2 separate regions of the Homo sapiens genome follow, and region 2 is linked to region 1. Evidence: fine-mapped expression QTL. A gene starts in region 1. The other region holds a variant in brackets. All regions are shown on one strand. Distances are between the middles of the regions.

Region 1 (16,602 bases):
GTTTTGGCAATTACGAATAAAGCTGCTATGAATATTTGTGTATAGGTTTCTGTTTGAACATGTTTTCTTTCTGGGATAAATGCCTGAGAGTGCAGTTGCTGGGTCAGATGGGAGATTTGCATGTTTTAGTTTTATAAAAAACTGTCAAACTGCTTTCCAGAGAGGCTGAACCATTTTACATTCCTACCAGCAATGTATGATTTATGTAGTTTCTCCACATCCTTGCCAGCAATATGTGTTATAACTCGTTTTTATTGTAGCCATTCTGATAAGTGAGCAGTAACATCTCATTGTGGTTTTAATTTGCATTTCCCTAATAGCTAATGACATTTAACATCTTTTCATGTGTTTATTTGCCATTAGTATATTCTCTTCAGTGAAATGTCTGTTCCTATGTTTTGCTCATTTTTAAATTGGATTTATTTTTATTTTTATTGTTATTTGAGATGGAGTCTTGCTCTGTCTCCCAGGCTGGAGTACAGTGCCGCCATCTCGGCTCACTGCAATCTCCGCCTCCCGGGTTCAAGTGATTCTCCTGCCTAGGCCTCGCAAGCAGCTGAGATTACAGGCACCCGCCACCACGCCCCACTAATTTTTTTTGTATTTTTAGTAGAGACGGGGCTTCACCATATGGGCCAGGCTGATTTTGAACTCCTGATCTCAAGTGATCTGCCACCTTGGCCTCCCAAAGTGCTAGGATTGCACATATGAGCCACTGCGCCGGGCCAAGGATTGTTTATTTTTTACTATAGAGTTTTGAGAATTCTTTATACATTCTAGGTACTCATCACTTGTTATATGTTTGGTTTTGTAAATATTTTCTTCCCATCTGTATCTTGTCTTTTTATCCTCTTATCAGAGTTTTTTGAGAAGCAAAAGCGTTTACTTTTGATGAAGTAAAATACATTTTTGTACTTCTTTATGTAGCCTCAAGTCTGCAGGCAAGGCACATGTTGAAGACCATCTCCCAGGACACTTGAAGGCAGCCTGGAGAATTTTCTCATTGCTCTTGAGAAATCAATAGCATGGAATTGTTGCATTTGCTAAAAAAAGGAATATTCAAAGGCAAGTTCCCTAGCCTGCAGAGTTTCAATTGAGTCTGTCTACTTTCCTGTTTTTAATCAAAATCTTGCCAAGTGGAAGTTTCGGGCTTCTGTGCCAGATAATTGCTAATACTAAATAAGTAGCAGTGATTGTTTATTTGCAGTCACATAGAACATGGTATGTTAGAAATTAAATGTAGATGTTAAGAGTGTGGTCATTTTTAGTTGGCTATAAACCAGGTAGTTAGAATTAGAGATCCATGTTTGCATCAGGCCAGAAAGCTGCTGATCCGCAACATAAGCATTTCTATCTATCTATCTGTAATATAGATATGTAGAGCTGATCAGCATGTGTTCACCTCAAGCTAGAAGAATACATTTTAAAAACCTGATTTATTCTTCCTTTTGCTCTGTTCTTATATCCTTGCAGAGGGAAGCTTGTTGTACTTTTTGTCTTATGACTCTTTCCCCCAAAGGGAACACTTCCCTGCACTATTAAATCAAACTGGAATATGAAAAGAAATACATTTTCCTTTCCTTTACAAGAGGCTTGTACTTTTGTTTTCAACATCTGGCTTTCCTTGTCTCTCCTTCTCCCTGCTGTGATGACCATAGGACTGAAACATCTAAGGAAGTGAGCTGCATGAGGAGACCACCTCCTTCCTTTGTCCTACTACCATGCCAAGCACATAACTATCCTGGCATCTACAGCAACGTTTTTGGAGGTGTCTGCCTCACTGTCTAGATGGGCTGTCCCTTCTGGATGTCTTACTCATTTCTATATTCTCAGCACCAAGAGCAGAGGCTGTCACACCAAAGGTGCTCAATAAATGACGGGAGAATTCACAAATGTCATTAACTACTTAGTAGCTGAAAATTGGTAACATCCATCATTCAGTGAATTTTCATCCTTTCCTATTACCCATTCCAACCCCTTAGGAACAGACACTAGTTTTTGCTTATGTCGGAGTCATTTTTTAAAACCCCAATGCCTAGGAAATAAGTAGACATTTAATAATGTTGATCTCATTCACTCAGCAAACATTTATTGAATACTATGTTAAGAACTGTCCAGAATACCTACATGTACCTGGAAAGTACAGTCCTTTCCTTCAGGTAACCTATACTCTAGTGTGTGTAGGGGGGAAGCATAGAAATTATCACATGAAATATTTAAAGAATATAATGTATTATAACCTTTGTATTGAAATAATTAGTCCAGACTGTAAATAGTTGAGCAGTTCACAGGTAATCTGGTGTGGACTGACCACAGAAGACTCAAGCTAGTGGCCTGAGAAAACTCTAGAGTCCTTGGTGCCCCCACTAGAATCCTCTGTTGATTCTCCCTTTATTTGTGCTGTTCAAAGTTCTTGCCTTCTCTTGAAATGCTGCCCTTTTCCTTGTCTTCTTTCTGCCCATACCCTGCATTGAATGTTGCATCAGACAGGATTCTTTGGGTTGCAGGAGTCAGAAACCCCATCTCTAACGGGCTTGAGCAAAAAGAGGAATCCATTGCTTCATATCACTGAAAAGGTGGTCTAGGCAAGGCTGGTGTGGTGGATTGGCTGCCAAAATGGCAGTCAGCAATTTCTCCCATCTATGTGCACATCACTCCTTCCCTCAACAGGTAGACCCCGTTTCTCCTCCCCTGGAGTCTGAGCTGGACTTTTGACTTGCCTTGACCAGTAGAATGTGATGGAAGTGATAATCTGCCAGTTCTAGGCTAGGCCTTAGGAGATTTGGCAGCTTTTGTTTTTGCTGTGTTAGAAGGCAGCCACCATGTAAAAAAATCCAACTACCCTGATGGAGAGATGAGAGACTATAAAAAAAAGTATTTAAAAAAGTATAAACAGGCCGGCTACAGTGGCTCATGCCTATAATCCCAGCTTTGGGAGGCTGAGGTGGGAGAGGCCAGGAGTTAAGATCAGCCTAGGCACACAGCAAGACCCTGTCGCTACAAAAAATAGACAGGCGTGCTGATGCACCTGTAGTCCCAGCTACTCAGGAGAATGAGGTGGCAGGATAGCTTGAATCTGGGTGTTTGAGGCTGCCGTGAGCTATGGTCATGCCATCACACTCCAGCCCAGGTGACAGAGTAAGATAAAAAGTTTTTTAAAAAACTATAAACATATAAAAATAAAGACAGAGGCCCGGCCAGCCCCCACCATTCCAGCCACCCTAAGTCTTATAGGTGCTGACACGTTGTTTGTAGAAAAATCAACTCAAACTATGTTTTTCCTCTGTTCTCACACTACAAAAACAATAAACACAGAAGACTTCTGTGACCAAATATGGGAGAGGGGTTTCCCCACACACCAAGCAAGCAATCAGTTCTGGACACCAGCTGGGTGTCCTCCACCTCTACCTGGAGATAGCGTCAGACCCCACAGTTTGAAGGCAGAGTCCCCAAGACTGCCCTTCAAATGCCAGTCACAAGCCCAGGCCTTCAGAACTTCGGGCCAACCGGCTTCATGTTGGGGTTCCCATGACCCCCTCTTTGGGTTTGATTAATTTGCTAGAGCAGCACACAGAACTCAGGGAACCTTATATTTTACATTTACCGGTTTAGTATAAAGGATATCAGAAAGGATACAGATGAAGAGATGCATGGGACGAGGTAGGGGAAGGAGCGCAGGGCTTCTGTGTCTTCCCTGAGTACACCACCCTCCATAGATGTCCAGCTATCCAGAAGCCCCCTGAACCCTGTACTCTTCGGCCTTTTATGGAGACGTCACTGGGTGGGCATGATTGACAACCATGTAGAAATGTGACTGGACAAAAGGGTATATGATCTAGTACTAAGAGACTGAGTGGCGAGACCCAGCAAGGCCTGTCTGTTCAGATTCTTCTTGGCTTCTCTGTGCAGCATTCTTTCCTCCAGGGTATGGAGCAGGACCCCTTCTAAAATGAACCTTATGTCCTACAGTCAGACAAGGTAGGTCAGAGAATTTCTTCATGGCCAGCTGCATGACAGAAAGGCGGGGGAAGATTCCTTCCTTCAGGAGAGAAAAGAGCAGCTGGAACAAGGGTAGGATAAGGCTTCTGAGGCTGGCTTCTGGGATCTAAAGTGCCCCAAAATCATGACAAGAGACTATTACAGGGGCATTGGTAATTATAAGCCAGGAACCATGGGTGAAAACCAATGTATATATATATATAATAATGTCACTCATATGAATGAAGCCATCTTGGACACCCTACCCCCCCCCCCCCAGTGCCACATGGAACAGAGAAAAGCCACCTCACCTCCCTTGGAGGCCTGCCCAGATTGCAGAATCATGAGCTAATGAGAGGTAGTTATTGTTGTAAGCCAACACCTTTTTTTTTTTTTTTTTTGAGATGGAGTCTCGCTCTGTCATCCAGGCTAGAGTACAGTGGCGTGATCTTGGCTCACTGCAACCTCCGCCTCCCGGGTTCAAGCAATTCTCCTGCCTCAGCCTCCTGAGTAGCTGGGATTACAGGTGCCCATTACCACTCCCAGCTAATTTTTGTATTTTTAGTAGAGATGGGGTTTCACCATGTTGGTCAGGCTGGTCTCGAACTCCTGACCTCAGGTGATCCACTCACCTCTGCCTCACAAAGTGCTGGGATTACAGGCGTGAGCCACTGCACCTGGCCAAGCCAAAGCATTTTAAGGTGGTTTGTCATGCAGCGATAGCAGATGGAAAATGCTGGATCTAGTGCTCTAAGGATTTAGTAAGAAGTCTTTCTCCGTTTCATGGCTCTGCTTTCCCAGGGAGGCTGTCTTTATATGGTGGAAGGATGTCCACTACAGCATCAGGCTTGCATTGTACCAGCTTAGCAATGCCCACTGGAAGGGCATAGGCTTTCCCAGCAGTTCTGACAAAAGTCTGGGGATGACTCTCATCTGCTCTGATTAGCTCATGTGCCCATCCCTGCACAAGCCACAGTGACTCTGACTGGCCAAGGCTGGATGACATGCCACTCTCTAGATCCAAGGATGGGAATGGTCCACCTTATCTAAGCCATTTGGATTAAAAGTAGGAGTAGGGTAGGTCCCAATAGAAAACCTAGGTACTGTCTTCAGAATAAGGGGTGGGATCCTGGGCAGGCTGAAACAACAAACACGCACTACAAAAGTCAAGTGTAGTCCTACCTCTTTCCATAGGCCTTTCACTCCAAACTTTAAACTATTACAGCTCAAATGACCTGGTCTCTTCTTTGGTGCTTTTAGCATCTGCTGTCTTGTTGTGCTCCTTCCTTATAGTTTGCAAGTAAATTCTTATTTCACACCTTAGGTATGAACCTTTGTATTTCTTATTGTTCTGACTGCATTTGTTATTTTAACAGTGCGATATTTTCCATACTTTCTGCAGAGAGAGGCTCTTGGAGGTATCAAAAGCACAGAATTCTTACATTGACAGGAGGAATTTGCACCTGCGCTCTCCCTCTCTCTCTCTCTCCAGGGCTGACAAAACCCTAGGCATTGGCATTGCGTCCAAAGGAGGGGATGTGGTCTATTTTCCCCTTGGGTTCTGCCTCCCAAAAGGAGACCCAGATGGTGATCAGCACTGCTTGTTTTCTTTCTGTTCTGGGGAGCTTGCTCTTCTGCTATTTAATTTGTATATTTTTAAAAAATAATTTTGTATGAGTGCCCAGCAGAGCAGCTTTTGGGCAACTAGCTTATGAAATAAATTTAAATGATCTAAAAAAGAACATCCTTTGTTAATTGACATTTAAATGAGCCTAATAAAGTTTTAATTTATCCTTCTCATTGAGGGTCAGCATTCCAGGATGGAATTCTAAGAAACATCAAGACAGTAATAGAAATGGAAAGTAGATGCCTGTTGGTACCCCCAAGCAAAGCCCAACCCTGGTTTGTCAGGGCCTCTCTGAGTTTATTCACACGTAAAGTGCTATTATGTTTATTTATTTGAGAAGGTACCCCTAACTGGTGATTTGAATTCCAGAATTAAGGATATCACCATATCTGTTCCTTTGAGACTCTGTTACCTTTAAAATTTTAAATTATTCTTCACTATTGTGTGTATGTATGAATGAATGTACATCCAGTGTACCAACAGTCATTTGTTAAAGAGCATTATATATTTATAATTGTGTACCCCTTTTCTATTGAAGCCTTCTTCATCTCCCCACCAGAGATACTGTCCTGAAATTTGTGTTTATTATCCTCTTGCTTTTCTTAAACTTTACAGGAAGGCTGGGCGTGGTGGCTCACGCCTGCAATCCAGCACTTTGGGAGGGTGAGGCGGGTGGATCACTTGAACTTGAGGCAAGGAGTTCAAGACCAGCCTGGCCAACATGGTGAAACCCCATGTCTACTAAAAACACAAAAATTAGCCGGGCATGGTGGTGCACACCTGCAATCCAGATACTCAGGAGGCCGAGGCATGAGAATCACTTTAACTTGGGAGCCAGAGGTTGTAGTGAGCTGTGATCGTGCCACTGCACTCCAGCCTGGGCGACAGAGTGAGACTCTGTCTCAAAACCAAAAACAAACAAACAAAAAAACCAACCAAACAAAAACTTTACATGAATCTTTTTTTTTTTTTTTTTGTGGAGACAAGGTCTCACTATATTGCCCAGGCTGGTCTCGAACTCCTGGGCTCAAGTGATCCTCCCACCTCAGCCTCCTAAAGTGCTGGGATTATAGACATGAGCTACCACACAGCCTACATGAATCTTACTGCAAGTAATTTTTTGTGGCTTGCTTTTTTTGTTTCTCAGTATTGTTTGTGAAATTTGTCCATATTGATTTTTTTTTTTAGCTGGAGTTTGGTCTGTGGCTTATTTTTTTACTTTATTGTTTATTTTCATAAGCAGAAGTTTAATTTTTTTAATGTCAAACCTTTGTGGTTTATGCTTTTTGTGTCTTGTTTTTTTTTTTACTTGAGATGATAATAATGATATTCTTTCATTTTCTTCTGACAATTTTAAGTTGTGTTTTTTCCACTTTAAGTCTTTAATCTGTTTTTTTTTTTTAATTTTTAATTTTTTTAGAGACAGGTCTTGCTCTGTTGCCCAGGCTGAATTCCTGGCCTCAAGTGAACCTCTTGCTTCAGCCTCCTGAACAGCTGGGATTACAGGTGCAAGCCACCATGTCCAGCTAATTTTTTTTCTTTATTTTTCCTTTATCTGGTATTGGTTTTTGTTTATGCTGTGAGGTAGAGATCAATTTTATTTTCATCCAAGTGAAAAGGTAGATCATGCCACTCCTTTGCTCAAAAATTTCCAAATCTTCCCATATTCCCCAAAATTAAAGTTCTTTCTTTTCTTTTTTTTTTTTCTTTGAGTCAGAGTTTTGCTTTTGTTGCCCAGGCTGGAGTGCAATGGCATGATCTTGGCTCACTACAACCTCTGCCTCCTGAGTTCAAGCGATTCTCCTGTCTCAGACTCCTGAGTAGCTGGGATTACAGGCATGCGCCACCATGTCCGGCTAATTTTGTATTTTTGGTAGAAACAGATTTTCTCCATGTTGGTCAGGCTGATCTTGAACTGCTGACCTCAGGTGATCGGCCCACCTCAGCCTCCTGAAGTGCTGGGATTACAGGCGTGAGCCACCACGCCCTGCCTAAAATTAAAGTTCTTAAAATAGAATGAAAGTCCATATATGATCTGGCCCTCTGAAATGTCTCTGACCTCATCTCTTTCCAGTGAACACTGGCCTCCTTGCTCTTCCTTGAACACTCCCGAAATGTTCAGGGCCCTTGACTTTCTGTTTGTCTGCTGGAAATTTTCAATGTCTATACTTCTGGCTTCCTCATTTCCCAAGTCTCTGCTCAAGGTCACCTTATCATGGAGGACTTCTCTAGCCACCCTAGCTAAAATCTCCCTCCAACACACACACACACACACACACACACACACACACACCCCAGCGTTTGGTATTTCTCTTCTTTCAAAGAACTTACCTGAAAAACTCTCTGGGTCTAGTATAGTTGTGTGTTGGGGTAGTGGTAGATGGGTATTTTTAAAAGTGTTGATTTAATTTTTTGAATGGCTTAAGGACTACATGGGACTTTCAATTTCTTCTTAAGTTAGTTTTAACCCTTTCTCTACAAAAAAATATATTTTTAAAATTAGCCAGAAATGGTGGCACACACCTGTAGTTCTAGCTACTTGGGAAACTGAAGTGGGAGGATCCCTTGAGACCAAGAATTTGAGGCTGCAGTGAGCTATGATTGTGCCACTGCACCCCAGCCTGGGCAACAGATACCCTATCTCTAAAAAACATTTTTTAAAAAATTTTACTTTCTGAATAGTTAATATATGCCCACAGTATAAACATTCAAGTTTCAAAAGTATACACAGTGAAAATTAGATCTCTCTCCATCTCTGCCTTCTAGCTACCTGGTTCCCCTCTCTTGGCATCAATTTCTTGTCTGTTTCCCTAGTTTCTTATTTATCCTCCCAGATATATGTCGTGCATGTAGAAGCACATAACATATATTGTTTTTACATAAATGGTGGAATGCCATATATATTATCCTGCACATTGCTTTTTTTCCACTGAACCATGTATGTTAGATTTGCTTCCAAAGCTATTCATAGAGGGCTGCCTCATTTCTATTCCAGTTACCTAATATTCTATTGGATGATGTACCATCATTTATTTACTTAGTCTCCTTCTGAAGGATAATTAGGCTATTCTGTCTTTACAGTGGCCTTCTAAGAAGCCAGTGTGTTTTGCCCATCTTCAATCGCTGCTTCACCCTGATGTCAGATATACCTTCTCCTTAAACTTCCATTCCCATGCTATCATTTCCCTGTTCAAGAATTTCCAACAGCTACCCAGTTCCCACAGAATAAGGCTGAACTTCTTACCCTTGAACGAAGATTCTGCATGGTCTCTGCCTTCTTTTCCATCATGTCTTCCTGTTCCTGAGGACACTCCCCAAAACTGATGACTTGAGGTTTTCCCAAATGTACCTCTGATTTTAGGGGCTCCAAAGTTTTCTTCAGCCTGCTCTACCGTCCCCTTTGAACCCTATGAGGGAAATCCTTCCCTCCCCCTGGACTGGTCACACTGGGCTCCAGGTCCTCTCTGGAACAGCTGCACTTTAAATATTTCAGCCCAGTCTCCCACTGTACACCCTACAGAGCCAGAACAGGTGTTTTGAATTTTGTTTGGGGTTACTGATATTTAAATTGTTCACCAATGGTCCTTCCTCTTCTAAACTCCAAATTCCTTGTGGGCAGGGACTGATGACTGGGAATGGGGAATACTAAAATGAAAAGATATCCTGACTTCCAAGTAGCTTAAAACATAAAGGTAAGCTGGGCACAGTGGCTCACGCCTGTAATCCCAGCACTTTGGGAGGCTAGGGCAGGTGGATCACGAGGTCGGGAGATCGAGACCATCCTGGCTAACATGGTGAAATCCCGTCTCTACTAAAAATACAAAAAAATTTAGCTGGGTGTGGTGGCAGGCGCCTGTAGTCCCAGCTACTTGGGAGGCTGAGGCAGGAGAATGGCGTGAACCCGGGAGGCGGAGCTTGCAGTGAGCCGAGATTGCGCCACTGCACTCCAGCCTGGGTGACAGAGCGAGACTCAGTCTCAAAAAAAAAAAAAAAAGAAAGAAACATAAAGGTGAGCCAGATATGCAAAATTAAAATACACAACACAGTAGGATCTTAGTTTAAGTGGAAGTATGCTCTATGCTCAGGGCAATCATGGTCGGGGGGAGTTTTTATTTTATTTCATTTTTTTACTTTAAATCTCTGGTCTCTAGTCCAGCGTCTGGTACATGGCAGCTGCCCAGTAAGTGCCTGTTGAATGGAGAATAACATAAAAAGAGGCATTTAAGGCAAGTGTCAACTTCTTGCAGTAACAGTCACCTTTTATATATAAAATAAGTCAACAGATAGTGTAGTGTGGATGTCGCTTATCTTTTGGGGAGAAAGAGGGCTGTGTGGGAGGGGATGGAATCAACTTTCAGCCAGGGAGGGAGGCGAAGACATTGCCTCCCGGGTCGGGGGTGGGTGGGGGGTCCAGGCGGCTGCGGGGCGCGGGAGAGGCGGGGAGAAGGGAAGGGGGAGGAGACTCTCGCCTCCTGCCCCGCCTCCCCCACCCCGCGGCGGCGGCGGCGCAGGGCGGCCGCGCGGGTGTTGGCACCAGAGGCAACAGCTGCAGCAGCCGCGCCGCCCCCTCGCCCGCGGCTCCCAGGGTGATCCCGAGCACAGCCGGTGGCTCGCGGCGCGGCAGCCCCAGAAGACGGGAAAGTTCGCGGCCGGAGCGCGGAGATGCCGGGCAGCGACACGGCGCTCACCGTGGACCGGACCTACTCGTACCCCGGCCGGCACCACCGCTGCAAGAGCCGGGTGAGCGCAGCGGGCTGGGGGGCGGCGGGTGCGCGCGGGCCCGGGGGCGAGGCGGGCTGGGGCGGCGGCTCAGTGCTAACCCACGCGCCCCCGGCGTTTCGCCGCCGCCCTCCGCTGCCGCCGGAGGTCCGTGCCTCCCCGATCCTCCGAGCTAAAAGGGTGGGCGTCGGGGGCGTCGGAGCCCAGGCTGCGGTTCTGGGATCCCAGGTCCGCCTGCCCCTCACGGCGCCCAGGTCCCCGCGCGCTATGCGGGACGCCCGGTTCCCCGACGGCCCGCGCTCTGCTGTCCTCCCCGCCAGGGAGCGCCCGCCGCTCCGCGAGGGAATCCCGCCACCCGGCCACCCGCGGCCCCGCGTCTCCAGGTCTCCGGGGTCTCGCCCTGGGTGTGACGGTGCCCTCCCCGCCGAACGTCCCGGCGGCCGCCCTGTCTCCCTGTCCTCGGGGCGTGTGGCCGGAACCCGAGCGCGGTGCGCAGCCGGAGCGCGGGGAGGCGGCGGACGGGCTCTGCCCAAGTGAAAAGTCAGAATCTTTGCGCTGCCTCTCCGGAGTTTCGAGCCGAGCCGAGCAGGCGCCCTCGCCATTGTTTGCAGTGTAATTTGCTGTTGCTGATTTTGGCTGTGGGCGAAAATAGCTCATTCTGAGCCTGCTGCAGAGACGAGCCCTGTAGGGCTTCAAAATAAAGACGGAGGCCGCAGCCCAAGCGCGGGTCTGTCCTGGGAGAGGAAGCCTTCGCCCTCCCCGGTGAATACCTTTGCCCTCCCGGGCTGTTGAATCGTCGAGGCTGGATGTGAGGCTCTGTAACCCGTTCTCCCCAGGGCTGATTGAAGTGCCATTTAACAAAGCACCTCCTCCACGCTGGCATCTGTTCTGGCAGGAGGCACCTGGAGTTGTTCTTTGCTCCGCCAACTACTTACTCGCTTGTCCGAGAACTGGGGATTTGGGTGTCAGCCTCTGTGTAAAGTTCACGGAGGGAGAGCCGGGCTCAGATTCTGGCCTGCCACTTCCAAGATCGAGAGACCAACTGGATGGAAATAGTAGCAATAGTGACGGGGTTGTGTCGCGGCCCTTTGTGCAGGATTTTGGTCTTCACTCATAATTTGAAGTAGTAATCGATTGCCCCAGAAGTGAAGCAATGAGTCTCTGGTTTATTTGCCCGCTTTCCCTTTTTCCTTTAGCATCTGTTAATCATTTTGGAAGGATGATTTGAGTTTTTACAGATTGAATATATTTGGTGGAATAATACCTCATGCACTCATCTCAATCTTACAATTCTCTTGTTTTTGCACTTTGTGTATAAGTTTCGTAACAGTTTGCTGTGAAAATAACCAGAAACTCCATTTGGAATAAACATTGAAGAAATGTGCTTACCCACAGGTAGACATTTCTTCTTGGATAGCTGTAATGCTAGTTAACAGAACTATGAAGAAAAGGAGATCATCTTCGAATGCATTTGTAATTGAGAGGATTCTGTAAAGTTAATATTGCAGACTTGAAATGTGAAAGCTTGTTTTTTCTTGTCACAACTGTGATCTTCTTTGTGTAAACAAGATTAGTAATCTTAGCGGGATGGATGGCTCATTGTCAACTCATTTAAGTGGTTTGGCAAAACTCATGCAACTTTACAAAACTCACTCTTCATAACCTGTAAAATGGTGGTGATAAAGTTTGTGCCTCAACTGCTTAGGTGGAATGTGGTAAAGCAATTGTGTAAGGTAACTGCAGAGTGTTTCTGCCGCATCTGCCACTGTTGCCTGTCTACGCCAGTCTTTTCTATTAAAAGGTCAAAACCTTATGTGATTTCTTGATTTTCTTTAAAATTCTGCTGACGGGCCGGGGGCGGTGGCTCATGCCTGTAATCCCACCACTTTGAGAGGCCGAGATAGGTGGATCACCAGGTCAGGAGTTCAAGACCAGCCTGGCCGAGATGGTGAAACCCTGTCTCTACTAAAAATACAAAAATTAGCCGGGCGTGGTGGTGGGCGCCTGTAATCCCAGCTACTCGGGAGGGTGAGGCGGAGAATCACTTGAACCCGGGAGGCGGAGGTTGCAGTGAACCGAGATCGCGTCAGCCTGGGCACAGAGCGAGACTCTGTCTTTAAATAAATAAATAAATAAATAAATAAATAAATAAAACAATTCTACTGACAATGTTATTGTACCTGCTGCCTTGTATTGTTAGCATGGAGATACCCGATTTTTAAATAAGCTGTGTATTAAAACTGAGTTAGACATTATATGTGCGGATTATCGTAAATTAGCACATTGGGCCAGTCAGATCTAGTGAAGAGAGGAAATCAGAGAAGGGCTAGAACTTCAGCAGACCGTAATCACAAATTCTACTACAGTGATGCTGGACTTCTTGAGGTCCCAGTTGAAACTTCTCAGCTATCTGCTTTTAGGTTTTTTATTGTTGAGACAGCGAGGAATAGGTAGAACTAGTGAAATTTTTGTAAACTCATAATAATAACTTTTCTCAAGCAGGGTTGATGTAATTTCAAGTCTGTCCTGAGGCTACAATAAGTCTGTTGTAATGAAGGGAAAGCAACAATTTTACTGTGCAGAAAGTATTCATCCATTTAAATGATCGTAGCTCCTGTATTGTGGAACTCACTTGGATGCAGCTGTAAAGATATGTTTTCCTGACACCCAGAACGTATGTGATGCGAGAGGAAGACATCGAGTGCTAATTTCTTGATGTCACCATCTCCTTGGGAGGAAACTAGTATAGGATTTAAAAAGAACCCTTTTATGAACTCATTTGGTGAATTAGCTCCCCTAAAAATGCCAATGAGAACTAGGGGGTCATGGGAAGAGTCGACTAATCTTTCAGGGATATGGAGTTTCTGCCTAGAAGTGGGCAAAGACTCCATGAGATGAAGTTCTTAGTTACTGAATGGTCATTTTTTAAATTCAAAATCAATACCTGTTGAGATAACAGGGAAACTACATGGTCTGTCTTGCTGGGCTTATTTCAGCCTTTGAGACTGGAATAATAATGAGGCAGTGTACTCTTTCAACATTGCAGAAATCTATTTTTACATCTAGGTGGACTGACCTAGATAACCCCTCCCCCCTTAGTGAAAATGTAAGTAATGAATTCTGTGATTGTTGCTAAGCTGACAAGTCAGGATCATTCACATTTTAAAACTTCATCTTTGTAAAACTCAGAAATGGTGCTTGTTAACTTGATGCACATATCTCTCTACTTTAGAAGAAAGAGCATCCATAATTAGACTCCTACTTTTTTTTCATGCCCTAGATAGTTAAAGCCTATCATCTTTTTAAGAATACAGGCCGTCTGCTTTCTATACAGTAACTGGCTTTTATTAATGATGTGTGAATTAGGTTTTCTTTTAGTTGGTTTTCATTTTAAGTGTTCTAAAATGCCCTCTCCAGCCACTTGAGTATAGTGGTGGACAGCTGGGGCTCTGGACCTACGTGGGTTGTATTCTGGCTCTTCGAGCTTCTTAACTGGGTGACCACTGGGGCAAGGTCCTAAATAGCCTTTCTGAGCCTCCAGTTTCCCATCTGTAAAAGAGGTAATACTCCACTCTTCTGGGAGTGATTGTGTGTCTTAAATAAGAAAGTATTTGTTTTTTAAAAAAAAAAAAAAAAGCCAGGCACGGTGGCTCACGCCTGTAATCCCAGGACTTTGGGAGGCCGAGGCAGGTGGATCACCTGAGGTCAGGAGTTCAAGACCAACCTGGCCAACATGTTGAAACCCTGTCTCTACTAAAAATACAAAAATTAACCAGGCATGGTGGCAGGTGCCTGTAATCCCAGCTACTCGGAAGGCTGAGGCAGGAGAATCTCTTGAACCCGGGAGGCGGAGATTGCAGAGAGCTGAGATCGTGCCATTGCACTCCAGCCTGGGGGACAAGAGTGAGACTTCCTCTCAAAAAAAAAAAAAAAAAAAAAAAAGGTGTGTGCTTTCAAATATTAGCTATTTAAAAAAATTTTTTTAAATTTATGTTCTCTCACTGGGTGAAAAAGCTGTATTTGTCTATATGTCAGGTTAATAATTTTTTTCTATTTTGTTGGTGCCACTACTAATCAGAACTGCTAGTCATCTTGAGTGCCTGCCCTCCCCCATCTCTCTAACCTATTAGCAATACCACCGCACCTTTCTCTGACATTTCTCTGGAATTGGTTTCTTCCATATCTCCCAATCATCCCCCACCTTAGTCACTTATGACCTTCACCAACTTCTGTTCCATCCTGCATGCAAGGACCATATTATTTTCCCTACAGAACCATTTGCATTAGGATAGTCCCCAGAATACAGATCTTGTACCAGTGCTGTTTGCTACCAGTGTAATCTTGGATCCTGTAATCACTCTAAGCCTTAGTTCCTACTTCTACATAATAGGGGTGTTTTGAGGAATAAATTCAGTAATGTCTATAAAATGTTTAACTCCATGCCGGGTGCACAATAAGAAATCAATAGATGTTAACCACTTTTACTATAGGCCGAGCATCTCAATCCAAAAGCCAAAATCCAAAACTTTTTGAGCGTCAACATGACGCTCAAAGGAAATGCTTACAGGAGCATTTCTGATTTCAGATATTTCTATTTGGAATGCTCAACCAGTAAGTATAATACAAAGATTCCTAGGCCGGGCATGGTGGCTCATGCCTGTAATTCTAACACTTTGGGAAGCCAGGTGGGTAGATCACTTGAGTTCAGGAGTTTGAGACCAGCTTGGCCAACATGGTAAAATCCGGTCTCTACTAAAAATACAAAAAAATTAGCTCGGCATGGTGGCAGGTGCCTGTAATCCCAGCTACTAGGGAGGCTGAGGCAGGAGAATCGCTTGAACCTGGGAGGCAGAGGTTGCAGTGAGCCAGGATTGTGCCATTGCACTCCAGCCTGGGCAACAGAGGGAGACTCCATCTCCGAAACAAAACTAAACAAAACAAATTCCAAAATCTGAAATCTGAAACACTTCTAGTTCCAAGCATTTTGAATAGGGGACCTGTACTATATGAAAGAGGGATTTGTGAGCTTAGAAACGGAAAGGCTGCTAATTTTGTGAAAAGTATAGACTTTTCTAGCATTGCTAGCATTTTGTGCCTCCTTGCGTCATGTTTCTCATGACATTGACTGTTTATATGTTTAATGCTTACATGTATTTATAAACTATAGACATTGGCACTTTGAGAGCAAGATGCTTCGTTTATTCAAAAAATACTTACTGAGCACCTTCTGTGTGCTGGCTGCTGATCTAGGCATCAGGAATACAATGGTAAATGAAACAGTCTGGTCTCTGTGGAAACTTAATATCTGGTGGGTGTATCTCATTTATTCTTGTGGTTCCGGACAATACCCCTGTCTTGTACAGGAGAACATGATGATAATACATGCAGAAATCTCTAACATCTGAAGTAAAACTTGTGTCAAGCGTGAGTGCCACCTGTAGTATATCTTCAAGTGTTCTGTGGTTTGGAAATCCATCTACAATTACATGATGAGTAATGACCAAAGGCAGTGAAGAAGAGGATGCTGTAGCCCTTCTCACAGTGGAACTGGTTGGGCAGTGATGTAGTAAGTTGATGATCACATGCTTACTCCCTGGGCAGGAAATAGGGGGAGTGGAAACTGACCTCTGTCCTGGAGGACACTGACCCGGTGAAGTGGTAAGTTGAGTAGTACACAGATATCGTTTTCACCGGTGATTTGTTTTGTTCTAAAGAGCCTCTTAAAGAGAATGAATAATGGTGAGTGTCTCAAGCCAGGTTTTTCTTACATTTAGGATGAGCAAAGTGATGCGGTGTGTGTTTTTCGAGCTGTACTTTGTTGCAGGCTTTTCCTTTAGAGGAGAAGGAACTGCCGGCCACCACCAGCTCACCCGCCTGTCACATCCGCTGTAGAGATCACCAAGACAGCTGCTACCAAGTTGGATCTCAGGGTGTATTTTGCTTCAGACCCTCTGCCGGCATCTCCAGGACTGCTGCTAAGGTCAGAAATCAACCTAGTCCTACTTGGAAAATGCCCGCAGCTTGACTTAGAAGAGTCTGCAGCTTTCAGCCCTGTGGTTTCTTAATTGTGTTTTCATGTTTTCAGTGGAGGGGAGGAGGGTGACAAGAGAAGAGGAAGAGAACCATGAATCACTGTACTGTGAATCAGAATGAGGACTTTTCATTCCTTCGAAAGAGAACATCAGGATATATGATTTGTGCATAGGCCAACTGCTTCCGTCGACTTGGGAGGGGTGCTGCCTGAAAGGAACCATAGTATATTTGTGGATTATTCCTCT
Region 2 (16,602 bases), 23 kb before region 1:
GCCTGACTGTAGCCATTTGAAAAGAAGCCTCAGAGCTTGTAATAAAGCAAAACTGAGGCTTCCTGGCCCCAGAATCAGGACCATGTCAAGATTCTGGCCTCTCTTAAAGAAAATTATTACCAGTACACAGCCTTGGGAAGAAACAATAAAGTAACTGGTGCTTCATCAGCAATGAGAAGTAAAATGAGACTAGCCGGGTGCAGTGGCTCACGCCTGTAATCCCAGCACTTTGGGAGGCCAAGGTGGGCAGATCAGGAGGTCAGGAGATCGAGACCATCCTGGCTAACACGGTGAAACCCCGTCTCTACTAAAAATACAAAAATTTAGCCGGGCGTGGTGGTGGGCGCCTGTAGTCCCAGCCACTCAAGGCTGAGGCAGGAGAATGGTGTGAACCCAGAAGGTGGAGTGTGCAGTGAGCCGAGATCACACCACTGCACTCCAGCCTGGGCGACAAAGCAAGACTCTGCCTCAAAAAAAAAAAAAAAAGGAAGTAAAACGAGACTTTAGAAATTACTCACCAGAATAAGTGATAACTAATAGACAAACTCATTATTATCGAATCCAAGGATTAGGCTTCAGGGAACATTATTTTCAAAAAATGCAGACCCAGATTTGGAGAATTAAAAGTTTTTCCATCTTTTTCTGTTACAGGAAATAAATTTACACGGATAAATATTTCTTTTTTCTCTTTCTTTCTTTCTTTCTTTTTTCTGTGAGATGGAGTCTCACTTTGTCACCCAGGCTGGAGTGCAGTGGCACGACCTCGGCTCACTGTGACCTCTGCCTCCCGGGTTCAAGCGATTCTTAAGCCTTAGCCTCCTGAGTAGCTAGGACTGCAGGCACATGCTACCACAGCCAGCTAATTTTTGTATTTTTAGTAGAGACGAGATTTCACCATGTTGGCCAGGCTGGTCTTGAACTCCTGGCCTCAAGCGTTCTTCCTGCCTTGACCTCCCAAAGTGCTTGGGATTACAGGTGTGAGCCACGGCGCCCAGCCTACACGGAAAAATATTTCTAAGTTGTCAGTTACTGACCCTGTTTTTGAGAATTGGTTCACAGGACCACTGGTATCAGAAACCACCTGGGATGTTCTTTATTAAATCATAATCCCAGTTGGGCTTACACCGGTGGTCCCAGCTACTTAAGAGGGAAGGCTGGAGGGTCGTTTGAGCCCAGGAGTTCAAGTTGCAGTCAGCTATGATCAGGCCTTGGCACACCAGTCTGAGCAGCAGAGTAAGACCCTGTCTCTAAAAAGTAAATAAAATTAAATCATAATCCCAAATAGACACAAGAATCTGTATTTGTTAAACACACTAAGTGACTCTTACGTCCACCAAAGTTTGAGAATCATCACCATAAGTGGCTGGGGCAAAATAGGATATTAGAAGAAGTAAGACCATTGGGTTCTGTATTAATTCATTCTTGCACTGCTATAAAGAAATACCTGAAACTGGGTAATTTATCAAGACAAGAGGTTTAGTTGGCTCACAGTTCTGCAGGCTGTACAGGAAGCATAGCGACATCTGCTTTTGGGGAGGTCTCAGGGAGCATTCATTCCTGGCGAAAGGCAAAGCAGGAGCAGGCATCGTACATGGTAGGAGCAGGATTGAGAGAGGGGGCAGTGCTCCACACTTGTAAACAACCAGCTCTAGTAATAACTCACTCTCTCTCATGAGAACAGCACCAGGAAGATGGTGCTAAACCATTCACAAGAAACTGCCCCCATGATCCTATCACCTCCCACCAGGCCCCTCTTCCAACACTGGGGATGACATGAGATTTGGGCAGGGACACAAATCCCCACCATATCAGGGTCTTAAATTGAACCAAATGTAATGGCCATAGGAGGCAGTTTCTGCTGGGTAGGGAAAGGGGGCAGCTCATTTTTCTCAGAGGCCACCATATTTTGAACAGCTTTAATTGTTAGGTGGTACCTCTAATGTTTATATCTTTTTTTTTTTTTTTTTGAGACATGGTCTTACTCTGTCACCCAGGTTGGAGTGCAGTGGTGCAGACATGGCTCACTGCAGCCTTGACATCCAGGGTTCAAGCGATCCTCCCACTTCAGCCTCTCAAGTAGCTGGGACCACAGACATGCACCACCACACCTGGCTATTTATATTTTGTAGAGACAGAGTCTCACCATGTTGCCCAGGCTATATATATTAGTCTGTTTTCATGCTGCTGATAAAGACATACCCGAGACTGGGCAATTTACAAAACAAAGAGGTTTAATTGGACTTATAGTTCCACATGGCTGGGGAGGCCTCACAATCATGGCGGAAGACAGGGAGGAGCAAGTCACATCTTACAGAGAGGGCAGCAGGAAGAAAGAGCTTGTGCAGGAAAACTCCCCCTTGTAATAATCATCAAATCTCGTGAGATTTACTATCACAAGCACAGCATGGGAAAGACCTGCCCCCATGATTCAGTTATCTCCCACAGGTCCCTCCCACAGCACATAGGAATTTAAGAGGAGATTTGGGTGGGGACACAGCCAAACCATATCACTATATATCTTCTCATTCTTTCTTTCTTTTTTTTTTTTTTGAGATGGATTTTCGCTCTTGTTGCCCAGGCTGGAGTACAGTGGCACAATCTCGGCATCTCGGCTCACTGCAACCTCTGCCTCCTGGGTTCAAGTGATTCTCCTGTCTCAGCCTCCCAAGTAGCTGGGATTACAGGTGCCTGCCACCATGCGCAGCTGATTTTTGTATTTTTAGTAGAGACTAAGGGTTTAGTAGAGACTTAGGGTTTCACCATGTTGGTCAGGCTGGTCTTGAACTCCTGACCTCAGGCAATCCGCCCACCTCAGCCTCCCAAAGTGCTGGGATTATAGGTGTGAGCCACCATGCCTGGCATATCTTCTCATTCTTTATGTTCAGAATTGTTGATCTCTATATTCACTGCTAGCTCTGTAGAGCAGAAAAGAGTAACACTAACCAGTGAATTTTAGTAAAGAATTTTTCAGATGGAAAATGTACTCTCATTAGCTATAAATTGACTAACCAACAACAATAATTAGCATTAGTGAAAAGAGCAATTGTTAAATAATAAGAGCTAACCGTTTTTGAGTGGAGTATAGTGAGCACTTTACATGCATTATCTCACTCTGTCCTCCTAGTCACCTTATGAATGAATGGGTGGTGATATTATCTCTATTATCAGACGAGGACACTGAAGTACAGACATTAAGTATCGTGTCCTAGATCACAAATACTGGGGCAAAGTTGGACTCATTCAGACTGATTCTGTTTAACATTGAGCCCATTTGCTTTTAACCTTTGAGCCATGCTGTCTTATCCTCTCAACAAGAATTTATTATTCTCTGGGAGACTGAAAACCGAGTCTGAAGAAACATTGACTGCAACAAGTGTGCATTTATTATATACTGGAAAAGAAAGCTACCCTGCCCCTGGCTCCGGGACTCACCATTCTAAGAGATCTAGCTGATATGCACAGAGACAGGCTTGTATGTCTCAGGTACCTGTTATCCAAATTAGGACACAATGGTGCCCATATCCTGTGGGGCCCCTCAGTGCTTCCAGAGCATTCCAGGGGTCAGATTTCTCCTGCTTCCTGGGTCTTGGATCCTTGACTTTGTGAGGCCATTTTAGTTGCTGCTCTTGACCCATCCTAAAGGTCAGAGCTGGGTTAAAGATAAAATAGCATACCTGGAAGAATCAGCCATAGCAACCTGTCTCTAAGTGCACTTTTGCTCCAATTCCAGTGACCACTTAGGCCAAGCCATGAGTTCATATAATGGGATATCTGAAGATATATGACCTCAGAAATTCACAGAGCAGATGGGACCCTTGCACAAATCATTACAGTATAAGGCAACGTGTAGTAGAGTGTGGGAGCTCTGGTGTCCAACTGCCTGACCAAGTCCAGTGTCGCCACTGCCCTTTTAGAGATAGTACTTAACCTTTCTCAATCATGGCTTTCTCACCTATAACTAGGAATAGTAGTAGGATTAAATGAAATAAAATGTATCAAGTGCTTCATAGGATTCCCATCCCATAGTATGTGTTCAATAAGTAGCTCTTATTATTGCTGTAAACAAAATATTATTTGTGGCAAGAAGAAGGAGATACTGCTCCTAGCAATCAGAGAAGTCTTCTTTGAGGAGGAGCATTTGATCTGGGCCCAGATGGGAGGAATTTCTGTGAGAGAGGAGGGATTATTCTATGCAGCAGCGGAACCATAACCTGCAAAAGCACAAAGGGAGAGGCAAGGCACGTGCAGGGCGCGGTGAGTGAGGCAGAATGACTGCAGGGCAGAGGGTGCGGGAGTGCAGGAGGGTAGGTGGGAAAGACTGGTCAGAGGGCGTTTGTGGAAGGTCTCAGAGGCTGGTGAGCATCATGTTAATCTCCTAGTCCATCCCTCAGGTTTGAGAGCTGAATACCCACTAAATAAGAATTGCACTGTCTTTTTTTTATTCTTTTTGCATTTATAATACTTACGATCCTAGCCAGGGCTGACTTGGAGGCAAGAATAATTCCCTGGCAGTTTTAGGAAGCTGCATGAATTACACATTCCTGGTTATGTGGACTCTCAACTTTTTGTAAACGGTAAGTGTATTACCAAAGGTGTATGATTCCTTGTGCAGCCACCCCCACGGCCCCCATCCCACCCCACCCAACCCCCGCCCTGCTGGCCATTCCTAGCTACAACCACAGAAGCCAACGCAGCCCAGAAGACAGTGCTGATTTGGGTGTTCCTGTCATTGGGCAGCCCTAGACTCCAGGCCTAGGGCGCGGCGGGGGTGGGGTGGGGGCAGGAGGGAGGGCAAGAGGAGGAAGGAAAGCCAGTCTCTTTTTGCAGATAGAGAAGAGGGTGCCCAGAAGAATTGTGCTGAGCTGGTGATTTGAGCTGTTATCTGCTTGGATGTACGATTGATTCACTCCTACTCCGAGGTTCTCAGAGCCCAGAATGTTCCATAAGTGAAACAATTGATGCATTCGGTCTCTGTGGCACTTAATCCACCACTCCTACCCCCATTTTAATATTTGTAATAGTGATCAGTGAAGGGCAGGACTTGAATGTTTTAGAACTAAAACGGGATAAAAAGTAAAGTCCTAATAATGGTTCTCTTCTGTCTTTGTCCCTCTAATTAGAGAAGGCCATATCCATGTCTCCATAGGAAATGGACAGTTAGGGAATTGGTACCGGGCTGGAGTCATGTGTAATCTTGCCCTGCCTGAGGGAGGCCTGATGTTGGAAGTATTTAAGAGAGTCTGAAAGCTTGGCTGCTCTAATAATTAGACTGGCTGTACTGGTTTTTCTTTGCTTATTAAATCACAGGCCAGAAACACCTCTGTGGCAGGACCTGTGTACTGAATTGGTATGCTGTGAGATCCAGAGCAAACTGAAAGTATGTCACACTTTGAGCATTTTCACAGACCAGTCATGGCCACAAGTTTAGGCCTGGCTTAACCTGATTCACTGGAAATCAGCTTCAACAGCACCAGCTGTAATGAAAAGTAAATATGCAGGTGTTTGTTGTTATATATCTGGCATTGTTAAGCTATCACTGAATTTTTTAAAAATCTTGAATCAGTTGGTGAATGTACATGTATCCAAACAGCTTGCTTCCAGACTGTGTACAATATCTTCTTTCTTTTTTTGAGACAGAGTCTCCCCTGTTGCCCAGGCTGGAGTGTAGGGGTGCCATCACGGCTCACTGCAGCCTCAACCTCCCAGGCTCAGGTGATCCCCCCACCCCAGTCTCCCGAGCAGCTGGGACTACAGGTGCACACCACCATGCCTGGCTAGTTTTTGTATATTTTGTAGAGATGGGGTTTCACCATGTTGCCCAGGCTGGTATCGAACTCCTGGGCTCAGGCGATCTGCCTCGGCCTCCCAAAGTGCTGGGATTACAGGTGTGAGCCATTGTACCTAGCCCATAAGTATCTTTTAATGCTTACCTTCAATTATGATAGATATTGGGAATACCTTGCATTTGTATAAAGCGTTTTTACTGGCTGATTTCAGTTGTTTGAAATCATGCATCCTCTGTCAATCTTCTGGCTGATTCAGTTGTTTGATTCTGCCCAGAACCAAGTGTGGCATAATAAATATTAGCTCCTTGATCCACAGAGGATGCTGACCCTGAATTGAGTGACTTATACAAGATGACAAAGCTAGACAGTGGCTGGCCGGAAAGAGCAGCCCACTAGGTCATCTGCTTTTGGGTTCAGTGTTGGGGTTTCTCCACCACATTGTGACAGAATAGTCTGGCTTGACTGGTTTTTTCTAAAGCACTGATTTTTCAGCTTCCCAAGAAAACCAGAGTAGATCCTCTTTTTGTTTATTTTGTTGACCCAGTTATACACCTTCTGTTCTATAGCTTTTCCCATCTTCTAGGATATGGGACGCAAATTTTATGCATAGCCAATGATTTTTTAAACCAAACTCATAAGCAAAATCTGAATTTCCTTGGAGCAGGAAGCAGAGAAAACAAATACCTTCTCTGTGCTGATTGCTCACATAGACATGCTAACCCACACTCTGCAAAGGGGTTGAGTTTTAGAAATTTAAATTACTTTGTTGTCACCTAAAATAAAACCTTCCCTAGACACTCCCCCAGCACTCTCTTTTTTAGTTTTTATTTTTGAGACAAGCTTTCGCCATGTGGGCCAGGCTGGTCTGGAACTCCTGGCCTCAAGTTATCCACCCACCTCAGCCTCCCAAAGTGTTGGGATTACAGGCGTGAGCCACCGTGCCCAGCCCCTCTGCCCTCCCTTCAACTATAGCCTTATCTTCCTCCTTGTCTGCTTTGCAGGCCAACCCTGGAGAGAGTTGGCTAACTTCCTGTCCTTATTTTCTCATCTCCCTCTTGTTTCTCACTCTTCTTCCGGCTGGACACTGGCCAGGTTTTTGTTAAGGTCACCGGTGGTCTCCACATGACTCAGTTCAGTGGACTTGAGTTTTTCAGACTCAATTTATTTCTCTTAGGGGATTTAGTACACACTGTGACCTTGGGAAATTTACTTCTCTAAATTATTTGCAAAATGGGCGTAGCACCTTCCTCCTCAGATTGTAGCGAGGTCTAAATGACATAGTTTGTGGGAAGTGGTGAGCATAGTGTCTGCTACAGTGAGAAGTACATGCTAACCACTGCTTTTATCAACACACTTCCCCTGGTTCCGGTGACACTGTATTTTCTTGTTTTCCTCCTATGCCTTTGGCCCCTTCTACTCCTCTGTGTTATCATGAAAGGAAATGAAATGCGTCTGCGGCAACAGGACTCTGGATGTGAGTCCCTGGATGTGAGGTGTTAAAGGAGGGACACTCCCAAGAGAAGTCTTAAGCAACTAAGTGGTGGTGCCATTTGCTGAAAGGTGGGATCCTAGAGGAGCCAGAGGGGCATGGAGGAAGGCGGGCACACTTGAACATACTGAGCCATCCATGTGTAGATGAACTGGATGGATGGGTGAGTAAGGCTGGAGGTCAGAAGAGACATAGGAGCAAGAGGCTCCATGGCCGGGCAGGTGGCTCACGCCTGTAATCCCAGCACTTTGGGAGGCTGAGGTGGGCGGATCGTCCGAGGTCAGGAGTTCAAGACCAGTCTGGCCAACATAGTGAAACCTTGTCTCTATTGAAAATACAAAAATTACACTTTGGGAGGCTGAGGCGGGTGGATCGCCTGAGGTCAGGAGTTCGAGGCTAGCCTGGCCAACATGGTGAAACCCCGTCCCTACTAAAAATACAAAAATTAGCTGGGCATGGTGGCGCAAGCCTGTAATCCCAGTTACTCGGGAGGCTGAGGCAGGAGAATCGCTTGAACCCGGGAGGCGGAGGTTGCAGTGAGCCGAGATCGTGCCATTGCAATCCAGCCTGGGCTACAAGAGCGAAACTCCATCTCAAAAAAAACAAAAAACAAAAAAACAAAAATTAGGTGTCGTGGCATGCGCCTGTAGTCCCAGCTACTTGGGAGGCTGAGGCAGGAGAATCAGTCGCTTGAACCTGGGAGGCAGAAGTTGCAGTGAGGCGAGATTGCTCCACTGCACTCCAACCTGGGCAACAGAGTGGGACTCCATCTAAAAAAAAAAAAAAAAAAAAAAAAGCCAGCAGTGGTCTGGGAGAGAAAGCAAGATGGGAAGGGAACGGTCTGGGACAGATGCAGAGAAACGTTGAACTGTTTCAATAGCCTCCTGATCAGCCTCCCGGCTTCCACCCTGGCCCCCCCATAAAAAGTCCTTACTCTGCCAGAAAATGCCACAGGATCTGCGCTGCTGTTCTTCTAACCCCAGGCTGCTTCTCTGACCTCATCTCCACCCTCCCCGCTCTCCTGCTCGGCTCACTCTGCTCCACCCATGCTGGTTTTCTTGCTGTTGTTCCTCAAATGGATCAAGTGCTCCCCTTCCTTGGAGCTTTTGCACTTGCTGGTCCTTTTGCCTAGAATGGTCTTTTTCTAGATATTCTACATGTATCACCCCCTCACTTCCTTCAGTTCTCTAGTTAGGTGTCCCAGCCTATCCATGAGAACTTCCCAAAACATATTATTCAGAAATGCAACACTCATCTATCCCCTTTTCTCTGCTTTCTAAAATTTACTAGCATCTGATATGATCTATATCTACCTGACATATTTTGTTATATTGCATAATATGGTATTATATACTATGTTTCTATATGTGACACATGTAATAATGATAAATATATATACTAATATACCATAATATATATTATACCATCCCTATATATTCTAATCTGCTATATTATACAGTAATTTTTAAAATTTCCCACCTCCAAATATAACTCCATGAAGCCAGCAACCTAATTGTGTTCACTGCTATATCCTTGGAGCCAAGAACATTTCCTGGCATGAAATATACACTTGCTAATATCTGTGGAATTAAGAAATTCCAACATTTCATGATAGCAAAAAAAAAAAATCAACTTTTATCTCCCCCAGGGTTGCCATTTGAAGCTGCAAGTACATTATGCAGAGTTGGTTGCTGTGGTACCAATATGTTTTACATTTTGTATAGTAATGTTCATGAAATGAAGGATGGGTTTCCAATTTCCATTAGTGCAGGATGCACTCGAGTCCTGCCAAAAGTTTCTTCCCTTTTGAAATGCCTTATCTCCAGCTTAAAAACTTCAACTTCCTTTTTTAAGACCCAGCTCCCTTTCTCAGGAAATGTGTGTTTCTACTAGGATACAAATGGGATTTATGATGCTGAGGGAAGTCGATTTGATTTGCTGAATATACCCTTGACAATTGAGAGAAGGTTATCTGAAATTAAAAAA[A/G]AATAATAACCCAGTTTGCCAGTATGCCACTCTGGATTACAGAACGGCATCAAGGTTATTGTGCTTGGAACGTTTTTGTTTTTCTCTTTTAAAAATATTGCCTAATTATGGACAGGAGGATATAAAAACAAAAGAAGCTCACATTCTCTTCCCCATTTCCAGTCTACTGAGGATGACCCCACGGTAGACTTAGATTTTCTCAGTGATTCAGAAGAAAATTGAGTATTGTTAAGGAAAAACAGCCTTAACCTGAGACTCTAAAATTGTGCTGTAAGTGTGAGCAGAGGGACACAGAAAGTCTGCTGATGAATGTCACCTGCTGTCTTTTGAAAACCAATGTATGCCACGGGACTCCTATGAATAGTAAATAGTACATGGCCTTTGAGCTGTTTTTATGTCAGTGGTAATAGGTCACACTCTTACTTAATTGCTCGTGCAGTTCAGAATTACCATATGGGGGTTAAGGATGCCCTTTGTGTCCACTGCATTTTGGGTTAATAGGTGTGAAGCATTAGGCCTCATAGCCCTGTGGTCCACCTGTGTTTGGCAGCGAGTTTAGCTGTGGGTGAGTAATTAATTACCTAACTATATAAAATAACTATAATTTTTTTCTCTCTGCTAAGTAAAACTATTTCTAACGAATAGCTTCACAGAAATTGAATACCAGTGCACAAGGTTCTAAGAAGCTTTTACATCTGAATATGCTTGATAATGTCTTAAAGGTGCATTCTATACATCCTTGTATGTATTTCTTCCTTTACCTGGGAAACGTTAGATAATAAAAAGGCTTGGTTTCGGGTGTCAGGTGGTCTTGAGTTTGAATCACTTACTAGCTGACTGATTCTTGTACCTTTTCATGTCTCTCACCGTGAACACTGGGGATGGACGTATGAGATACACTCCGTGAATTTCCTATTCGGGTAAGACATGGTAAAGAGGACTGCCCTACATTTTCATTTAAATAATTGCATTCAAAATAGAAAGGCTCAAAGGATGAGGGAATTTTTTCCATTAATGATTAATTAAGGTCAAACAGCTAGGCTTTCACTTGATTTACACCTAAATATGTATTAATTCATATTTTCTTAAGTAAATGTCAGTTATGCTGCCAAAACAGAAACCAATAACAATTCAGAGATTGAATACTAGAAAATAAACCTAGGGTTTGGAGAAGCTATTGAATCTAACTTTATCTAATGCCATTATAAATATCAGTTTTAAACTCAATAATATAACTTGGTTCTGTTTAGGGAACAGTGTAGGGAAATGGAAAAGGGTTGGTCTGGGGTATCAGACAGACTTGGGTTTAAATCACTTACTGTGAATGACAGCGGGCCACTGTCCTAACCTGTCTCCGTCTCAGCCTTGCTAGCCTGAGTTTGTGACAAGGATGCTGGCTGCAAGGTGTGTGTTTGTGAAGCCACAAAGATGAGAACCTGGCCACCCAGCAGGTGCCCACACGAACTGCAGAGTCTCTTCTCCCTCTTCTACTGCCTATTCCTTCAGCTCTGCTACCAAGTAGCAAGCCATTTTACATATCTGTGCCTCAAGTTTCCTCATCTGAAAAAGAAGGCTGAACCACACACCTTGTTCTGAAAAGTTCTACAGTCTAGGCTTTAAAAGTATAAATGCTTAAAAAAAAAAAGTTTCCTACTTAAAAATTGATACCATACTTGGATGTGTAGATGAAAATATCTACAGACCATGAACCATTCTGTTATTTATACTAAAGATAAATTCTTCTGAGAGCAAGTTAATTGGAAAATCCAGAAACCATTAACAATTTCTTGCACTCACCTTAAAAGAGCAATGAAATTCCATATCCTACAGTCTTGAAATGAGTAAATGGAAGGATGTAAATATTTATTGGAATGAGAGTGGAGCAGAGAGAAGCTCGGCTTTGTCTACTGGTGGGTGGTAACACATCTATGGATCATTGTTTGCACTAAGCATTTAATAATCCCATCTGTTGAAAATGTATAATTGGAGGTACTTTGAAATTGCTATAAGCTACCTAGAAATTGGCAAGAAAGTAATGCTGGAAAGATTCCAAACTCTGCAGCCAACCAAGAAATCCAATATAAATCAATATGTAATTATAAAACCACATCTTTGGCCACAGCTCTTTAAATATATTTATTTAGGCATGATACAGACTTTTAACACCAGAATCTGGAACTGGAGAGTCCTTTGCAAGCCTCAGGTTTGAATCTTTGGGGATACTGTTTATTTGACCTGCAAAACCCACAGACAAAGGCAGAACTTTCTGCCCCCAGCTGCTATGGTACTGTCTCCACTGATAACTCCACGTTCTCACTTGTCTCCCAAGTCCTTTAAGTTAGATTATATCTCATTTCAAAACTGAATCACTTGGTCTTATTAAAAACTTTATACTTCTTTTTCCTTCCTGGTACCTCTTTTCATACCAGAAATTCACTTGGTTGGGCCTGCCCTGGCTTCTCATTCAGAGAAGCATCTTTGCAGTACATTCCTACCTCTCAGGAGTTTGTGTGTATTTTTCACACTGAACTTCTTTCTTTAAAAATCTCCATTCACTGCCTTCCTTTGTTCCCTCATCTCCTCTGTTCCTCTCCCCACACTCTCCCTTTCTATTCATATATCACAGGCTGTGCACATATACTTTATGCAGAGAAATGGCATATTGAGAATTGTAGCTGTTCTTAAGAAAAGAAGACTGCATACTAGGAAGAGCTGTTAAAGACATTCTATGGGTCATTACCTCTTTAGTTATCTCTTTGGATGGAAATTTTTATGTAGCTCTATCTCTATGCAAAATTAAAGTAGGGGTTTAAGAAAGTACCTAATCAAAATGAGCAGATTTCAACAAAGGAAATCAGGGCTTTATTTTCCCAGGAATGTGGAGTTTCTTTGTAGGTTTCAAGATCCCTACTCTCTCATTCCCCAGCTGCTATTCCCCCTTATCTCCAGGCACAGCTGCTTCCATACATTTGCCAAGTTCATCATCGCATGAGTGGTGTCAGGGACTGAACTGTGCCCCTGTAACATTGGTATGTTGAAGCCCTAGACCCTAGTACTTCAGAATGTGACTGCATTTGGAGATAGGACCCTTAAAGAGGTAATGAAGTTAGAGCAACGCCATTAGGCTGGGTTCTGATCTATCTGATGTCCCTGTAAGAGGAGGAAACCAGCCAGGCATGGTGGCTCACGCCTCTGTAATCCACCTGGGCGGATCACCTGAGGTTAAGAGTTCCAGACCAGCCTGGGCAACATGGTGAAAACCCATCTCTACTAAAAATACAAAAATTAGCCGGGCGTGGTGGCATGAGCCTGTAATCCGAGCTACTCAGGAGGCTGAGGCACGAGAATCGCTTGAACCCGGGAGGCGGAGGTTGCAGTGAGCCAAGGTTGTGCCACTGCACTCCAGCCTGGGTCACAGAGTGAGACTCCTTCTCAAAAAACAAAACAAAACAAAACAAAACAAAAAAAACCGAAGAAGTGGAAACCTGGACACACTGAGAGACACCAGGGATGACCATGTGAGGACACAGCAAGAAGGCAGCTGTCTGCAAACCAAAGGGAGAGGCCTCAGAGAAACCAACCCTGCTGGCACCTTGGTCTTAGACTTCTAGCCTCTGGAACTGTGAGAAAATAAACTTCTGTTGTTTAAGCCCCCGAGTCTGTGGTATTTTGCTATGGCAGCCTGAGCAAAGTAATACAAATAGTTATAGCAATATCACATTTCTGTTATGAGATCGCCGCAGCATCAAACAGGAGAATCCAAGAAGGAGACCTAGAAAAACAGGTGAAACCACTTTCAAGCAGGAAATAAACTCTCTGGAGAGATGATCTAGCACGTGTGTGAAACATGTTCTAGGTGTATGACGTCTTTGGAACATTTTTTCCCCATCAAAGCCCAGTTTTGGGATTTTGACCTCCTTTGAAGTCAGGGAAAAATTTGGACCACAGGTTCAGGCATACGGAAGTGTAAGGAAACTATGTGGCATTCAGAGAGCTGTGTTCATGCTGATGTTGAATGCTAGGAATGTCTGATGCATGGGGTTACGCTGAGAATTAACCCGCTTCGATCCGGGTGAATTAAGATAAAGCCAAGCTGCGCTCGGTTAACAGCCCAGATGGAGATGAGTGGAGAGGTGCTGTTAACAGCACCAGAGCAGTCATTGTTTGGCTGGATTTTGGTTTCAGCTTTATAGAGTTAGCTTCAAAGAAGTCTTTAGAAGTACTTTGCACAGTCATGGAGTCCCTCTGTATATTTGATGGCCTCCAGCTCCATTCTAAAAGTGTGACCTTTATAAAGCCATAAGGGACTTTTGCTTGATTCAGTACTTTAAAGAAGGAAAAAAATGTGTTTTTGTACCCTGTGGTGTAGGCCTCTTCAAGATAGTTTCTTAAAAATCATTTGTTCCTTTTATTGTTCTTAATTTATTCCTATTTATTGATCAAGTAGGAACAATGGATATCAATGTATAATTTATGTATTATACAGTCCATCTAGAATTCCCAATGAATTATCAATAATAGAAAATGTGGGCTGGGCACAGTGACTCACGCCTGTAATCCCAGCACTTTGGGAGGCTGAGGCGGGCAGATCAGTTGAGATCGGGAGTTTTAGACCAGCTTGGGCAACATGGTGAAACCCCCGTCTCTACAAAAAATACAAAAATTAGCTGGGGGTGGCAGTGTGCACCTGTAATACAAAAATTAGCCGGGCATGGTGGTGGGCACCTGTAATCCCAGCTACTCAGGAGGCTGAGGCAGGAGAATCGCTTGAACCCCGGAGGTGGAGGTTGCAATGAGCAGAGATTGCTCTACTGCCCTCCAGCCTGGGCAACAGAGTGAGGCTCCGTCTCAAAAAAAGCAAAACAAGCAAAAACAGCAACAGCAAAAAAACCAAGAATGTTCTGAGATGAAACAATTGCACCTGCATTTTAAATTTTGGTTTGGTATTCAGGGATCTACTGCAGTTTCACTCTTTTCAATATGAACTACCAATTATTTCCTTTCCACATTGATTTCTGATGCCACCTCCATCCTAGATTGTGCTTTCATATGTGCATGAGCCTGTTTCTGAGCTCTCTCTTCCTGGGTCTCTGTGCCAATTCCTAATCACCTGAACTATTGCCAATAAAATGTCTGGCTACCTGGTAGGGAGAGCTCACTCTGTCTGCCCCTACTCCCCATATTTTTCCCCCAAGTTGTATTTTTTCATCCATTGAATTTTATTTTTCATTTTGTTTGCTTATTATTTTTGAGACAAGGTCTCGGTCTGTCACCCAGGCTGGAGTGCAGTGGCCCGATCTTGGCTCACTGCAACCTCCACCTCCTGGGCTCAAGCGATCCTCCCACCTCAGCCTCCCCAAGTAGCTGGGACTACAGGCGTGCAGTGCCACCATGCCCACATGCCCAGCTTTTTTTTTTTTTTTTCGTAGAGATGGATTTAGCCATGTTGCCGAGGATGGTCTGTAACTCTTGGTCTCAAGCAATCCAATAATCTTGGCCTCCCAACGGGCTGAGATTACAGGCATGAGCCACCACGCCTGGCCCCTCTTACGCTGATTTTTTTTTTTTTTTTTTTTTTTTTAATGAGGCAGGGTCTTGCTCTGTCGCCCAGGCTAGAGTGCAGTGGCATGATCTCGGCTCACTGAAAAGTAGCTGGGACTACAGGCGCGTGCCACCACACCCAGTTAACTTTTTTGTATTTTTGGTAGAGACAGGGTTTCACCATGTTGGCCAGGCTGGTCTCCAACTCCTGGCCTCAAGCGATCCACCTGCCTTGGCCTCCCAAAGTGCTGGGATTATAGGCGTGAGCCACTGTGCCTGGCCTCTTCCATCAAATTTTAAAATAAGCTTGTCAAGTTTTTGGAAAAATCCTTTTTTACTGGATTGTGTTTCATTTATTGATTGACTTTTAGGGAAAACTGACATTTGTTTGATACTGCATCTTTTCCTCCATGAGTATGACCTTAATATTAGTTTTAGGCTTGCTTTTATAGAAAAACGAATGTTTAAAAAATATTAGTACACACTGTATTTAAATCCTCAAACATTTATGGAAGGATTTCCAATATAACAACCATGCTGGGGACTGATGGATTTTTAGAATGAGCAAGTAAGTCCTCTATTTTAAAAAGATTACAGTCTACTAAAGGGAGGCGTGGTAGACGTACGTACAATTTACTTCACATAAATTAGACTGTGGTAAGTATGATGCTAAAGCTATACATAAGATGCTACCAGGGAAGGAGGATTAATTTAAACCTGAGAGATCCCTTGGGATCCCTCCCAGAGCCATGTATAGTACTAGTATTTGTATGTTTAGCTCATGTTTGGCTCATTTTATATAATGAGATGTGAAGAATACTTGTCAGTCTCTGTGTTTTGACATTTTGATAATTAAACATGGGCTCTGTGATTCATATTGACATGTAGTCAGTATAGAATATTTATGAGATATTTTACCTTCTTTTGTTTGTACTGTCTTTAAGGTGTAAATTAATTAAAATTAAGTAAGATTTAAAACTCAGTTCCTCAGTCACAATAGGTACATTTCGAGTCCTCGGTGCGCTCATGTGACCAGCATCTACTGTATTCAGTATGCAGATTCAGACAATCATTTATTGTACACTTCATCTTGATATCTAAATGAGGGAAAATATTTAAAGCATAGTAGTTTAAATAGGTCCTGGGCTGGGGTTTTATGAATAATCCATATTCTAATCATCTGTCTTCTAATTGGTTATATGTAAAACATTCTGACATTTTTGGATTGTGGAAAGTACGATTCCCTTTGTAAAAGGATTAGAGGTAAACAATGGACAATGGGAAAAGCCCCATCTCAGTAGAGCTTTATCCAGAGAATGGTTTTGCAATCGTGAGTGTCAAGAAGCAGCAATGAAATTTATGGATTTTCTGTCTCTTTCATTGAAGCAGAAATTCAAAATAGAGCTCTATAAATTGGTCAGCATCTTCTTGGATCTTGTATTTGTTTTTTCCGTTACCTCAGTTCCTTTTAGCAATTGAAAAGGAAGCTTGTTGTTGTTGTAAACTCCAAATGACCAAATCCTGCTAATGTTCTGAAAAACCTACATGTTATATTCTTGATTTCCTGATAACTTTTTTTTTTTTTTTTTTTTTTTTTGAGACAGGGTCTTGTTCTGTCACCTAGGCTGGAGTGTAGTGGCGCCATCTCAGCTCACTGCAGCTTTGACCTCCAGGGCCCAAGCCATCCTCCCACCCCAGCCTCCCGAGTAGCTGGGACTACAGGCGCGAGCCACCATGTCCGGCTAACTTTTTGTATTTTTCTGGAGAGATGGGGTTTTGCCATGTTGCCCAGGCTGGTCT

The links. PIP is the estimated chance that this variant, and not a neighbour inherited with it, causes the effect. A credible set is the group of variants that fine-mapping cannot tell apart.
Region 2: its variant is the best candidate, but not a certain one, in a credible set for the expression of TMCC3 in whole blood (TOPMed, PIP 0.89).

What each region holds. Positions count from the first base shown.
Region 1 is chr12:94,644,096-94,660,697 of GRCh38, reverse strand. TMCC3 (transmembrane and coiled-coil domain family 3) reads left to right here and starts at 10,141. Exons shown (of 4, transcript NM_020698.4): 1 at 10,141-10,345. The coding sequence starts at 10,268. It overlaps LOC105369914 (a long non-coding RNA gene), which reads right to left and starts at 14,260. Exons shown (of 2, transcript XR_945225.4): 1 at 11,095-14,260; 2 at 9,696-9,793. RefSeq lists silencers at 10,018-10,187, 10,208-10,677, 10,768-10,897 and an enhancer at 9,974-10,689.
Region 2 is chr12:94,666,708-94,683,309 of GRCh38, reverse strand. No RefSeq gene overlaps it. Among named protein-coding and RNA genes, the nearest start is that of TMCC3, 24 kb to the right of the region's middle. RefSeq lists enhancers at 1-54, 6,531-6,640, 7,231-7,340. The variant A/G (reference allele first, on the strand shown) is at 9,262.